Linked DNA regions of Homo sapiens. The protein of the gene in region 2 purifies or fractionates together with the protein of the main gene of each other region. This does not show direct contact. Each region holds a gene or a part of one and is shown on either strand. Other genes may lie near its edges. The genes, in order: GART, INPP5K and USP47.

The links.
Region 1: the proteins of INPP5K (region 2) and GART purify together in Homo sapiens (co-immunoprecipitation; 4 studies listed by BioGRID and IntAct, with this or other methods). This does not show direct contact.
Region 3: the proteins of INPP5K (region 2) and USP47 purify together in Homo sapiens (co-immunoprecipitation; 3 studies listed by BioGRID and IntAct, with this or other methods). This does not show direct contact.

The regions. Positions count from the first base shown.
Region 1 is NC_000021.9:33,540,403-33,544,150, forward strand, and holds the start of GART (trifunctional purine biosynthetic protein adenosine-3), read right to left. Parts: upstream 1,716-3,748; 5' UTR 1,663-1,715; intron 1-1,662. Other genes in the region: protein SON, read left to right, coding at 2,691-2,767. UniProt on the Homo sapiens protein: Trifunctional enzyme that catalyzes three distinct reactions as part of the 'de novo' inosine monophosphate biosynthetic pathway.
Region 2 is NC_000017.11:1,509,929-1,513,676, forward strand, and holds part of INPP5K (inositol polyphosphate 5-phosphatase K), read right to left. Parts: intron 3,634-3,748; coding exon 3,525-3,633; intron 1-3,524. UniProt on the Homo sapiens protein: Inositol 5-phosphatase which acts on inositol 1,4,5-trisphosphate, inositol 1,3,4,5-tetrakisphosphate, phosphatidylinositol 4,5-bisphosphate and phosphatidylinositol 3,4,5-trisphosphate.
Region 3 is NC_000011.10:11,839,886-11,843,633, reverse strand, and holds the start of USP47 (ubiquitin carboxyl-terminal hydrolase 47), read right to left. Parts: upstream 1,663-3,748; 5' UTR 1,449-1,662; coding exon 1,410-1,448; intron 1-1,409. UniProt on the Homo sapiens protein: Ubiquitin-specific protease that specifically deubiquitinates monoubiquitinated DNA polymerase beta (POLB), stabilizing POLB thereby playing a role in base-excision repair (BER). Acts as a regulator of cell growth and genome integrity.

The DNA.
Region 1 (3,748 bases), on a different chromosome or scaffold from region 2:
TTTTCTCAATCATTCATATTTGGTGAGCTGTACAAAAGCAGGCAGCAGAAGGATTTGGTATGTGGGCCATAGTTTGCTGACTCCTAATTCAAATAGCGCAATATGCTAGAATATTGGTAGAGAAGGCAAAAATCAAATTCCAACTCATTTCACTTTAGTTCTGGCACCTGAGACTTAGAAGGATGGATACAACAGCAGTGTAACCTAGGAGATTAACTGAAATGACATTTATAAATAAGTACAATCTGGCACTCAGCAGTAGTAAATGTTAACTTGTTACATTTACTTACCACAAGACAAACTGGTAACAGGAAAAAGAAAATTGAAAACTTATTTTGATGATGTTGGGATTACATATTTTAAGAAAAATGTAAGCTGACAATATACAAAACTAACATTTTTTTGAGCACTTAACCTTGGGCAGGGTACTATTTAAAATGCTTGTCATGAAAGAATCCTATGAGGGAGATACTATTACTATCACCAATTTGCAGATAAGACAAGGAGGCCCAGATAGGTAAATAACTTGCTGGAGGTCACACAGGTAAGAGGGGGTGGAGCCTAACAGAAGCAATTTTGCTTCAGATTCTCTCAACAAGTGAAACGATGATCATTGAAAATTTGAGAAAGGAAAAAAAAAAACCCTGTTAAATTACAGTCTCGGAAGGAACAGCTACTTTAGTGTAACGGGAAAACACATTTTACTTGCCATGTGTATCTGAAATAAACAGATTTTTTATTTTATTTATTTATTTATTTGTTTAGACAGTCTCTCTCTGTCGCCCAGGCTGGAGGGCAGTGGTGTGATCTCAGCTCACTACAACCTCCGCCTCCCGGGTTCAAGCGATTCTCTTGCCTCACAGCCTCCCAAGTAGCTGGGATTACGGGCGTGCGCCGCCACGCCAGGCGAATTTTTGTATTTTTAGTAGCGACGGGGTTTCACTACGTTGGCCAGGCTGGTCTCGAACTCCTGACCTCCAATGGTCAACCCACCTTGGCCTCCCAAGTGCTGGGATTACATCACATCCGGCCAGAAATAAACAGATCTTTAAATCTAGAGCAAATGTTACATCTTTAGTTTGAATATAGCAGTAGTGTGGGAAAATTCTGTTTACTCTAGTGGATCACTGAAAATAGCCTTACTACCCAGTGGTGAGGACGCCTGGGCTCCTGAGTCTCACACAGCGCCTTGGCCTGGGTAGAGACGCTGCCCCATACTAGCAGGAAGACCTTGGGGGACTTCACTAACCTTGGGCCTCATTCCTCAGAATGGGTAACATAAGCAGAATAAGACAGGCAAATAAAGCCGTATCAGAGGATATGGAGAATAAAGTAGAAACCAACTACAAAATTAACCAAGTAATCTGCCAGAGACAACGGGTGCATAAAGAGAAAGTACACCAATTTAGGGTTATGTCCTAAAAATGTATAAAGACACAAAAAGGCCTTGACATCTTAGAAAACAGGAAAAGTAAAAGAGCAAATAGAAACCAGCTAACAGTAGCAAGTGAAAAGCACATGGCCAACCCCCACCCACCGCATTTACAAACAACAGGAAAATTTCTACAAATCAGTTTCTATGGTTTCACTCAGTTCGCGATCTTAAATCCCCAAACCAAAGCCTAAGCGCGCTCCGTGTAAAAGCGGAGGGGGTTTACGCACCGACACCGGGTGGCCACCTGGTTCCCGCTTGCCCGCTCGCCGGAAGTCGGCCCACCGGGACCGGCGCGGGACCAGCGCGGCACCGCCCCTCACTGCCCCGCCCTACGACGGCTTCCCTGCCCCATTGGTCCGCGCGGCCCTGGGTCTCCGCGGCGAGAATCTAGTCTGATTCCCTCCCGCCCTGGGCGCTGCCTGACTGCTCCCCAGCCGAGACACCCAAGCCTTAGCACGTTTATAATGTGACAGTGGTACGGGGTGCCACGCAGTGTTTCCAGGAGCGCCGGGGGGGAGCGCCAAAATGCTAAACCCATTCTTAGCCAATTGTGCGCCGCTCACGAGTCAGAGCTGAGCAGCTACCGCGGAAAAATCTCGTGACACGCCTGACTCCTGATGAGACTAAAATGCACCGGGCTTTGAATGCCGGTCGCTTAGGACATCCGGCCTATTGCTAAAAAAAAAAATGAGGCTGGTTATAGAACGCACTGGGGAAGACACAGGGCAACAGCGAGTTCCTCCTCTCACATGCCAGTGGGGGCGGGGGCTGAAAAATTCTCTCCCGGATGCATATCCCTGTCGAAACTGAACTTGGCGCCACCTGAGAGCGCCTGAAAGCCGTGTGTTAAACACCGGGTTGCCCTTCTTGCTCTTCTTCCTCTTCGCCTTTAATCTCAGGCACTTAGCAAGCCTGTTAAGGCTCCCAAACACTGCTGGGGACTGACAACTTATGCGGACACGGTCGCCTCAAGAGAGACGGCTCCTGTAATGGCGCCTGCGTCAGACACTAACATGGCGGACATAGTCGTGCGCGGCGCAAACGTCAGCACCTCTACCCCAGCCGCTCAGAAACAGCAGAGGAGAGCAGGGCCGTGCTCACTGATTGGTCCCTCGGTGGAGCGGGCCGGACCGGGCATTCCCTTTGGAGCCAATCAGGAAGGCGAGAGACCGAATTGGCCCGTGCGCCTCCTCCCGAGGCATGCTGGGAGCCTGGAGGACTAGCGAGGAGGAGTTGAGAGAACGGAGCGGACGCCATGGCGACCAACATCGAGCAGATTTTTAGGTCTTTCGTGGTCAGTAAATTCCGGGAAATTCAACAGGAGCTTTCCAGGTAAACGCCTCCCAGATTCTTCTGCTCCCAACGGACCGTTAGGCCCTCACCTAGCCTTCTTTGGCACCTTTCTTCGGAGACGCAGTCGTTCCCCGGCTCAGGCCCCGCTAGGGCCCCGCCTGGGCCTGGGATCCATTTTCCGGGCCCCCCCCAACCGCCCCCCCAGCCGCTCCCTTCCTTTTCCCTCGAGGAACTTCGCCTTTTCCGAGGTAACCCAAGACTCCCTGTTTCAGAACCGAGTTAAGATGTTCACCCTTCTCCCCTGTTTGGGTCCCCCCTGCCGTTTAGCTACTCGTAGGCCCGGTTGTCCGCCAGGGACGGGCCTAGTTCCTTCCTCAGCTCCTCCTCCGCCGCCGCGTATCCCCTCCCCCTCTCGCCTCCGCGGATTTTGCCGGCCGGTGCCTATGACCGGAAAGGGTCTCTAACGGCCGTTTCTTGGTTAATCTTAAATCCTCTTTATTATTGCGAGCTTCAGACCGCTTGGGGGTCTGGATCTATTAATAAGATTATTCGGGGCCTAGTGTCCTGTAGTATCTGTCAGCCGTTCTGATAGTTAAATGTTTCAATTAAAACGAACTCAAACTGATGCACTTGCTAGTTTGTTAAAATACTCGAGATAAAGATGGAAGGGGACTTTGAAATGGTTGCGATTAATTACAGCAAGTGAAAGTGGACTTTGTGTGTAGGTCTATTATTTTCTTGCTACCCCTGCCCCAGTTGACACGCTATTTTTGTCATTGCTGGTAGACTTTACATAATTTGCGCTTGGCTTCACAAAATTTGAAGGCGAAGAGATTGTTAAAGAAATGGTTGTTTACTTAGGAAAATAGTGTGTCATGTTCAGCGGTTGTCTCTCGATATTTGCTTTTGTATAAGATACTCATTTCTTTAAAGTACAGAAGTAGGAAAGAGATCTTGAAACGTAAGTGTTCCGAGTTCAAGTGTTTTTAATTGTATTTTAAAAGTTGAGAGCAAGAGCAG
Region 2 (3,748 bases):
TCCCAGTTTGAATCTCAGAGTTTCAAGCCTTTCCATTCTTCTTCTCAGCTGCCAAATGATACATTCTGGGGGCTGAGGTTTTCGATTCTGCGCCTAGGCGTGCGGGTGGCGGGAAGAGAAGATAAGCTAAGGATACTGGCTTTGAAGTTAGATCTGGGTTCAAACCCTGGCTCTGATTCTTAGTATTTGACATTGAGGCAGTTTCTCAGTGTATTTTCTCATTGATAAAGTAGGAATCCATCTCATAGATGCTGTGGGGATTATCTGAAAGCTATTATTTTTTGGTTTCAGCATTCTTTTTTTTTTGAGACGGAGTCTCGCTCTGTCGCCCAGGCTGGAGTGCAATGGCGTGGTCTCGGCTCACTGCAACCTCCACCTCCTGGGTTCAGGTGATTCTCCTGTCTCAGCTTCCCAAGTAGCTGGGATTACAGGCGCCCACCACCAGGTCTTGTATTTTTAGTAGAGATGGGGTTTCACCGTGTTGGCCAGGCTGGTCTTGAACTCTCGACCTCAGGTGATCTGCCTGCCTTGGCCTCTCAAAGTGCTGGGATTGTAGGCGTGAGCCACCGCGCCCGGCCAAGCATTCTTAAAAGGAAGGAACATAAGAGGTTTCCAGGATACTGGGAAATGCTCTTCTTTATCCCCTTCCCTTCCTCCCTCTCTCCTTGGAAATGTTCTTTATCCACCAGCTGCCCCCATTCCTCCCTTTTTACTTAGAGACAGGATTTCGCTCTGTCTACCAGGCTGGAGTGCAGTGGTGCAATCACGGCTCGCTGCAGCCTTGACATCCTGGGCTCAGGCAATCCTCCCACCTCAGCCTCCTGAGTAGCTAGGACCACAGGTGTGCACCAACATGCCCGGCTATTTTTGTTTGTTTTGTAGAGACAGGGTCTTGCCATATTGCCCAGGGTGGTCTTGAACTCCTGGGTTCAAGCAATCTCCCTGCCTCTATAATCCCAAAGTGCTGGGATTACAGGCATGAGCCACTGTACTCGGCCTGCTCTTTATCTAGATGTGGCTGATGGTAACATGGGTATATGCAAAAACCCATCAAAGTGTACACTGAATTTCTGCATGCTTTTCTGTGTACATTATAGCTCAGTGAAAAAAAAATAAGAAAATGCTCCCCCCAAACCCCATAACTATATACTGCGTGCAGCTGGGTGTCCATGAAGGCAACGCCCATGGAATGCCAGTGGGTAAGGACACATGTGCACAGGCTAGGGAGAATAGCTAACATCTGCTCAAGTGCCTCCTCTCTCATTTACTCCTGCCAAGCCTGTAAGGAATCACCGTCCCTGTTTTGTAGTTGAGGAACTAAGATTTAGGGAGGCTAAGGAACCAGTAGGGCTACCTGTATTGTAAAACAACATCAAAGGGCTAGGACTGCCAAGATCCCTACTATCTGCAGCTGCAAAAGGTGGGGTGGGAATGGGCCGCAGCCAGTAGCTCTCCCTCTCAGGTTCAGGCTGTCTACCACCGGCACCCGAGGAGCCGTTTCCGGAGAATGAAGTGTGGAGGCCAAGGAGGAAATCCCCGGGTGGGGAGCGTGTACTGGGGCCTTCCAGGAATTATGAAACTTGATCCTGCAGGCCACGAGCCCTGGCATAGCGGAGTCGAAGCAGGGGGAACCTCAAACCCAGCACTGGGTAAGGGAGGCATCAGAACTTCAGGTGGGCCAGAGGTTGCTACAGGTGTGTCCTCAAGCCTACTTCCTCCCCAGTCTTCTCTCTCCTACACCCAAGCACACGTGCCAACAGGGATGGAGGACGGGCTGGACCATGAGGGGCTGACTCCCAGGGTCAGGATTGAAGCAAGGGGACTGATAAAGACTCAGGAAAAGTTTCAGGCTTAATCCCCACCCACAAAGCAGCTTTAGGCCACTGGGTTCCACCACAAAGACACTGGCTCGCTTTGTGAAGGAGCAGCAGGGAAGTGGGGGCGGGGAGGGTGGGGTCGGGGCAGGACAGAGTTAGACTGGGAGAAAGGGTGGGGCTGTGGGAAAAGCAGGAGAGTTCTAGGGAAAGTTCTAGTTGGAGGAAATGAAGTAGGAGGAGCGAAGAAAGGACTAGCAGGAGGTGGCTGGGGGCCCTGGAGCAGTGGAAGGGGGTCAGCCCTTCTCAGTCTATAGCTGGCAAATGCACGGAGCTCACCCATCCACCCTGATTCTTGGCTGGGGAAAGAAGGGCATTCATTTTGGGTGCCAGGCCCTCAGTCTGGCCTCCCAATCTCAGTAGGCCACATGGGTAGAAAGGGCTGTGTCTCTGCCACAAGTTGAGCTAATTTCCTTGGCTCAATTCCATCCTACCAATCCTTTGCCAGTCAGCCGAGAAGCAAGGAGGCCTGCAGTCTTGGGAAGGGAGTGGCGGGTGAGAGAGAAGTGGTTGTGTCCTCTGTAAGGATCTAGCTCCCTATCTACAGAAGGAGGCCTCTGGGTTTGATGTGGAGGGAACCAAGGACTCGGGCTGGTGTTTTCTATCCTCAGCAGGAGTTCTAAACCTTAGATTCTTTCCTCCCCATTCTGCTCCCCCTCCAAAGGACACACAGCTCTTGCCTCAGTACCCCCAGGCAAACTAGGCTGACAGAATCCATTCTGAAGAACAAGAGTCATCCAGGAAGGGGAAAGAGGGAATTCTGGTATTTCTAAGCAGCTGTATACCAGGTGCTGTGAATGGGAGTGTGTTTCATTCCTCAGGTGTGCAGGGCAGAACCAAGGTGAAGGTGAAGATCTGGCAACCCAGGGCCTTCCTGTGGACTCTCCTACTGTCTAAAGACACCCCAGAGTATACTGGTCTCTCAGACTAAGAAAGCCGCCCAAAGTACCCACCACACCTGACTCCCCTCTCCTAACCTCTGGACCCCCAGAATCTGAAGTGCACGTCCCGTATGACCTGAGGATACCCTATGACACCAGCAGGCTAGCCACGCCTAAGATCTGTCAGTCTTAGAGTTCACCAGCATAGCAATAAGGTATTAGTAGTTAAGAACTTGGGTTATGAAGTTTGAGAGATCTGGATCCAAATCCCAGATAGCGCATGTGGCTTCTGAGCCATGGTTTTCTCTGTAAAATATCTCTATTTCAACAGACTTGTTAAGATTTTAAAATAACATATATACTATAAAGAGCTACTTATGATGTGTAACAACAAGTAAGCACTTGATAAATGACAGCCGTATGATTACACTCAGAGACTTCAGGATGGGCATTTGAGTAGAGACTGGTGGCTGGGGCAGCGGCCAGCACTGAGGTGATGACAAGCCCTGCTGCACCTCCCCTCAGAATCTTCCCAAGCTGAAACATATCCAGGTGTTAACCCAACCCCTGGAGACTCCAGCTCCCTCAGAAAGGCGAAGGCAGGCAGGGGCCCCGGGGTCCAGGTGGAAGGGAGGTTTAGCCCTTTAAACAAATGGGAAACAGCATGAAAGGCTGAGCAGGAGTAAGAGGAACACATCAGACCCAACAAGCAGGGGTCAGTGGAGATGTGAAAACACAGTTGTCAAGTGCCAATGAACTGGCAAGTTACCTTGATGAAGCTCAGAGGGGAAAGCACATCCATGAGGAAACTGCTCCACGAGTCATTAAAGGCAGCATCGGAAAGGAGGCTTATGATCCCAGAGTTCAATTCCTGCAAACTGACCATGCCAGCTCAGAGGCTTGGCCCCTGGCCTCCAGGCTACTTCCCCTGCCACAGATATTTGATACCATCTTCACGGACTTTCAAGGCCTGAGTTCTGATGGCCATGAGGT
Region 3 (3,748 bases), on a different chromosome or scaffold from region 2:
TATAAAAATGAAAACCAGCAATATGAAGCTCTAAAATGAAATACACATTTATACCTTTCTTACAGCACCTATCACTTCCTTCCTTGCATAAGAATTACTTACGTGGTAAAGTACCTAGTCCCTAATTGGAGTTCAACAAACACTAGTGTTCCCTTTCTTAGTAGCTCAGAAAGTTCCCAAGGCAAGAATTCTGATTAACTCATCTGTTTATCTGCTTTGCACAGAGTTGGTGACGCTTGATGAACAAATACTGACACATAACTCTCTGCCTTTTACAAAAATCGTCCTTGCAAAACAACTATCACTGCCCTTCTGACAAAGCTGGGAAAATACTTGTATCATACAGGTACATAACTCCAATAATATCACCCTTGCATACTGTCAGAGCTTGCTTAAGTAACAAAGAATTGCTACAAAACAAGTAAAACAGGCACAAAAAAATTTAAGAATCTGTAATGATCACTCATTAATTTCAAGATCGCACACAGTTAATTTCAATCCAACACTTGTCTCTATTTAAGGTATATGAGAAATAAAAATCCAAAGCATTAGCCTGATGATCAGCCAGTTAAAAATACACATTTGAATACGCCGAAGATATTTATAAAGCCAACAGAGATACTATTAATACGTTGAAATTCGCTGGCCAGTGCTGGATTCTACCCTAAATCTTCTACTACTATTCAAGAGAAGCCAAGTAGTCAAGGCTTCTCGTATCACTTGCTTTTAAGAATTTAAGAAGTCACTCAAATTGGCATACACAACCCAACCTCAAAAAAAAAAAAAAAAAAAAAGAGTTCAGCTCTCCATGTGGTAATGTTCTCCTATCTCCTTCCTTTACATTAATGTCCCATGTACTACTTTTCCACGATCTTCGGTAGGCCCCATTTAGGCAGGCCAATAGTACTACCAAGTAACAGGAGTTGAAAAAAGTCGTAACAGTTAAGTCTGCCCTCCCACAGATCTCACTTGGGTGTAGATTTCACAAGCGCTGAAAGCTATACGCTGCCACTGTCAAACCCAGAAGCAGCACCGTCACCCTGCCGTGCCCATAGGCAACTGTTCCAGAATGTTTTCTTTGAAATGATCTCTCCCGGCTCCACACGTTAAACAAGAACTTAAAAGGCCACCTTCTCCCCTAGAGCAGAACCTGATTCTTTCCCGTCCGCTCCTTTATTCGTCCAGCCCCATAAAACCCGAGGCGGGAGGTCCGCTCCCCGGCCCCTAGAGCCAGCGGGTCTCCCAACTGCTCGCCGCACCCACCGTCCACCCCCGACTGCCTCACGCCTCCTCATTCCCCCACAGCCGAGCCTGCACCCCGGCCGGGCCCGCAGCCGAACCCCGGCCCGGGCCTGTGTTGCCTCGAGCGGCCGCAGGCCTAAGGCCTAACCTCCTCTGGGGCCCCTCACCTCTTTCGGGACCAGTTGGTTCTCCTCGCCGGGCACCATCGCTGACTCCGGCCGCTCCTCTCCGCCCTGCCGGGGGAGGGTGGAGGGTGGCGGCGGCTCGCTAGCTCAAGAGAGAATGGCAGCGGCAGTCATCCTCTCCGCCGCCTGCGCTCCAGCAATAGCGGAGGCCTCAGCCTGGGCCTCAGACACCAGCGCGCAGACACCGACCCAGGGCTCCGCCGCCGCCGCCGCCGCTACCACAGCCGCCTTCGTCGTCGGCCCCTCCCCCAGCCCGCTGCAATCAATGGAAAAATGGCGGCGGCCGCTCTCGCGAGAATTCGGCCCGTCGGGCTCCAAGCCCGGCGCCTGGCGTCGGAGGTGGCCGGCACTTGTCGCTAGCTTCTAGTCACCTCGGCTCTTCCTCAGCCCCGGGAGGTACAGAATTGGCGAGACAGCCATGCAAACGCTTTTCGTTAGAGGAGAGCTGGACGTTCCATCTCGGGACTCCCTCTGCCGGCCGGGGAAGGACCAGGCCCACTGTCCTCCCTGCCTTCTCGGGCTCTTCGGACTCTCTGCCCTGCAGGGAAAGACTCGAGCCGAAAGCCCCATCTCTGACCCTAGCAACTCATACCCTTCTGGCTTCCCTTTAGCAAAGCGCCTGGACGTCATCCCCTCTTCAGATACCCCAGGCCTCGTCCTGGTAGAGACACCACCGCGGGCCACCTCCCGGCCCCCGCCCTTAGACACGGCTCTGGCCCTTCCAGTCAGAATGGACAGCGTTTTATTTGCTCCCGTTCACTCTCCTGACGTTCTTTTCCCCTCTCCCCACCCTCCCTCTCAAGGGCCCCCAGCTGGAGGGACCTCAGGGGCCACCCCCTGCTTGGGGAGGCAGCCACCCCTTCCCTTATGAAGCGGTGTCCTCACCGCCCGCCCCCCGCAACTACATTGGAGAGGCGCTCCCCTGCCCTCTTCCAGGGAACTTCCTTCTCCATCAGGGCCAAGTCTGAGACTGAGCTAGCCTTCCAAGAGTAGAGCTGCAGTATGCTTCAACCTGTGATCTCCGTTAACAAGGTTTTTAGAGAATTTTAATCTTCTCTAGTAGTAAGCATGGTGCTTTGTGTTATACTAAACAAAGTTTGCAGAAGTCATTTCTCCAAATCCTGCTTCCATTATGGAGACTCGGCGGGGCTCCTTCATGAAGACTTTTATGGATACAGTGATCTTACAGCATGCTGAGATAATATAATCTTGTCATGTTCCTAACACCCACAGCATTAACTGCCTGCACTTGTGTTCTCCAAACTTTTTTTTATTGTAATCCCGTTACCAAAAAAAAATCCATATACTTATATAAGTTTTATACGTGTCCTGCTGTGTGCAGAATTATAAAACATTTGTAAAATGTAAAAAGGCTAAGACAAAGATGACATAAACATTTAAAATAACTTAGTTATTTTCCATATTAATGGTATAAAAATCTTTGTTATTCTCACTAAAAATATTTAAGGAAATCAATATGATTGACTAGGTTTCGTTAGTTTTAAAAATCTTTAATACTTCGTGAAATAGTTATTAAAATATCTGATTGAACGTCAGGTTATTTTTGTACTTGGTTTTAATGGCTGTCATAAGCTGAAAAAAAGGTAACTCACAAAGATGTAGATCCTAAAGGAGGAAGTACATCTTTGGCCACTCTTCCTAATGCATGTTTAGAACGATTTAAAAAAAAAAACTGATATGAAAAAAGTTTCATTTTTATCCATTCCATCCAACAACCATGCAAAGGTTTTTATTGAAATTCAGCTAGTAGTGTTCCATCTTTCCTGATGTCAACCAGAAGATGTTGCATTTTTATATTTTTACAAATGGGTTCAAAGCTCTTTGGAATAAATTGCTTAGAAGATTTTTAAGAAGTTGAAAATTTCTATCTTCAAGTTTTAAGTATTCATGTATGAGTTTTGGGAGTTATAGATCTTGTCTTTAAGGTTTTGATATTTTGATTATCATGGATTGATTAAGATAAATTTTGACTTTTTAAAATATTGTATTAAGATTAGTTGTCTTGATTATTGAATTTTTGGCACCCCCCCCTTAAATTTTGTGCCCAAGGTGAACGGTTTTCACCTTGAAAACCATTTGCTTCACCATAGTCCCAGACTTGGGTGGCTCACATATATCATTTTTGCATCAAAATCACATGATGGAAATATTTCCAAACTTTTATTTTCAAAATGTCATCCCATGACTTAGTAAGGTGTCTTCTGTAGTGCTGGCCAGTGCTGTAGTGCTCACCCTAGAAGTAAAAATGTCATCTCTGTCATCTTTTTTGCTTATGCTTGCAATATTATTTCAAACTCATG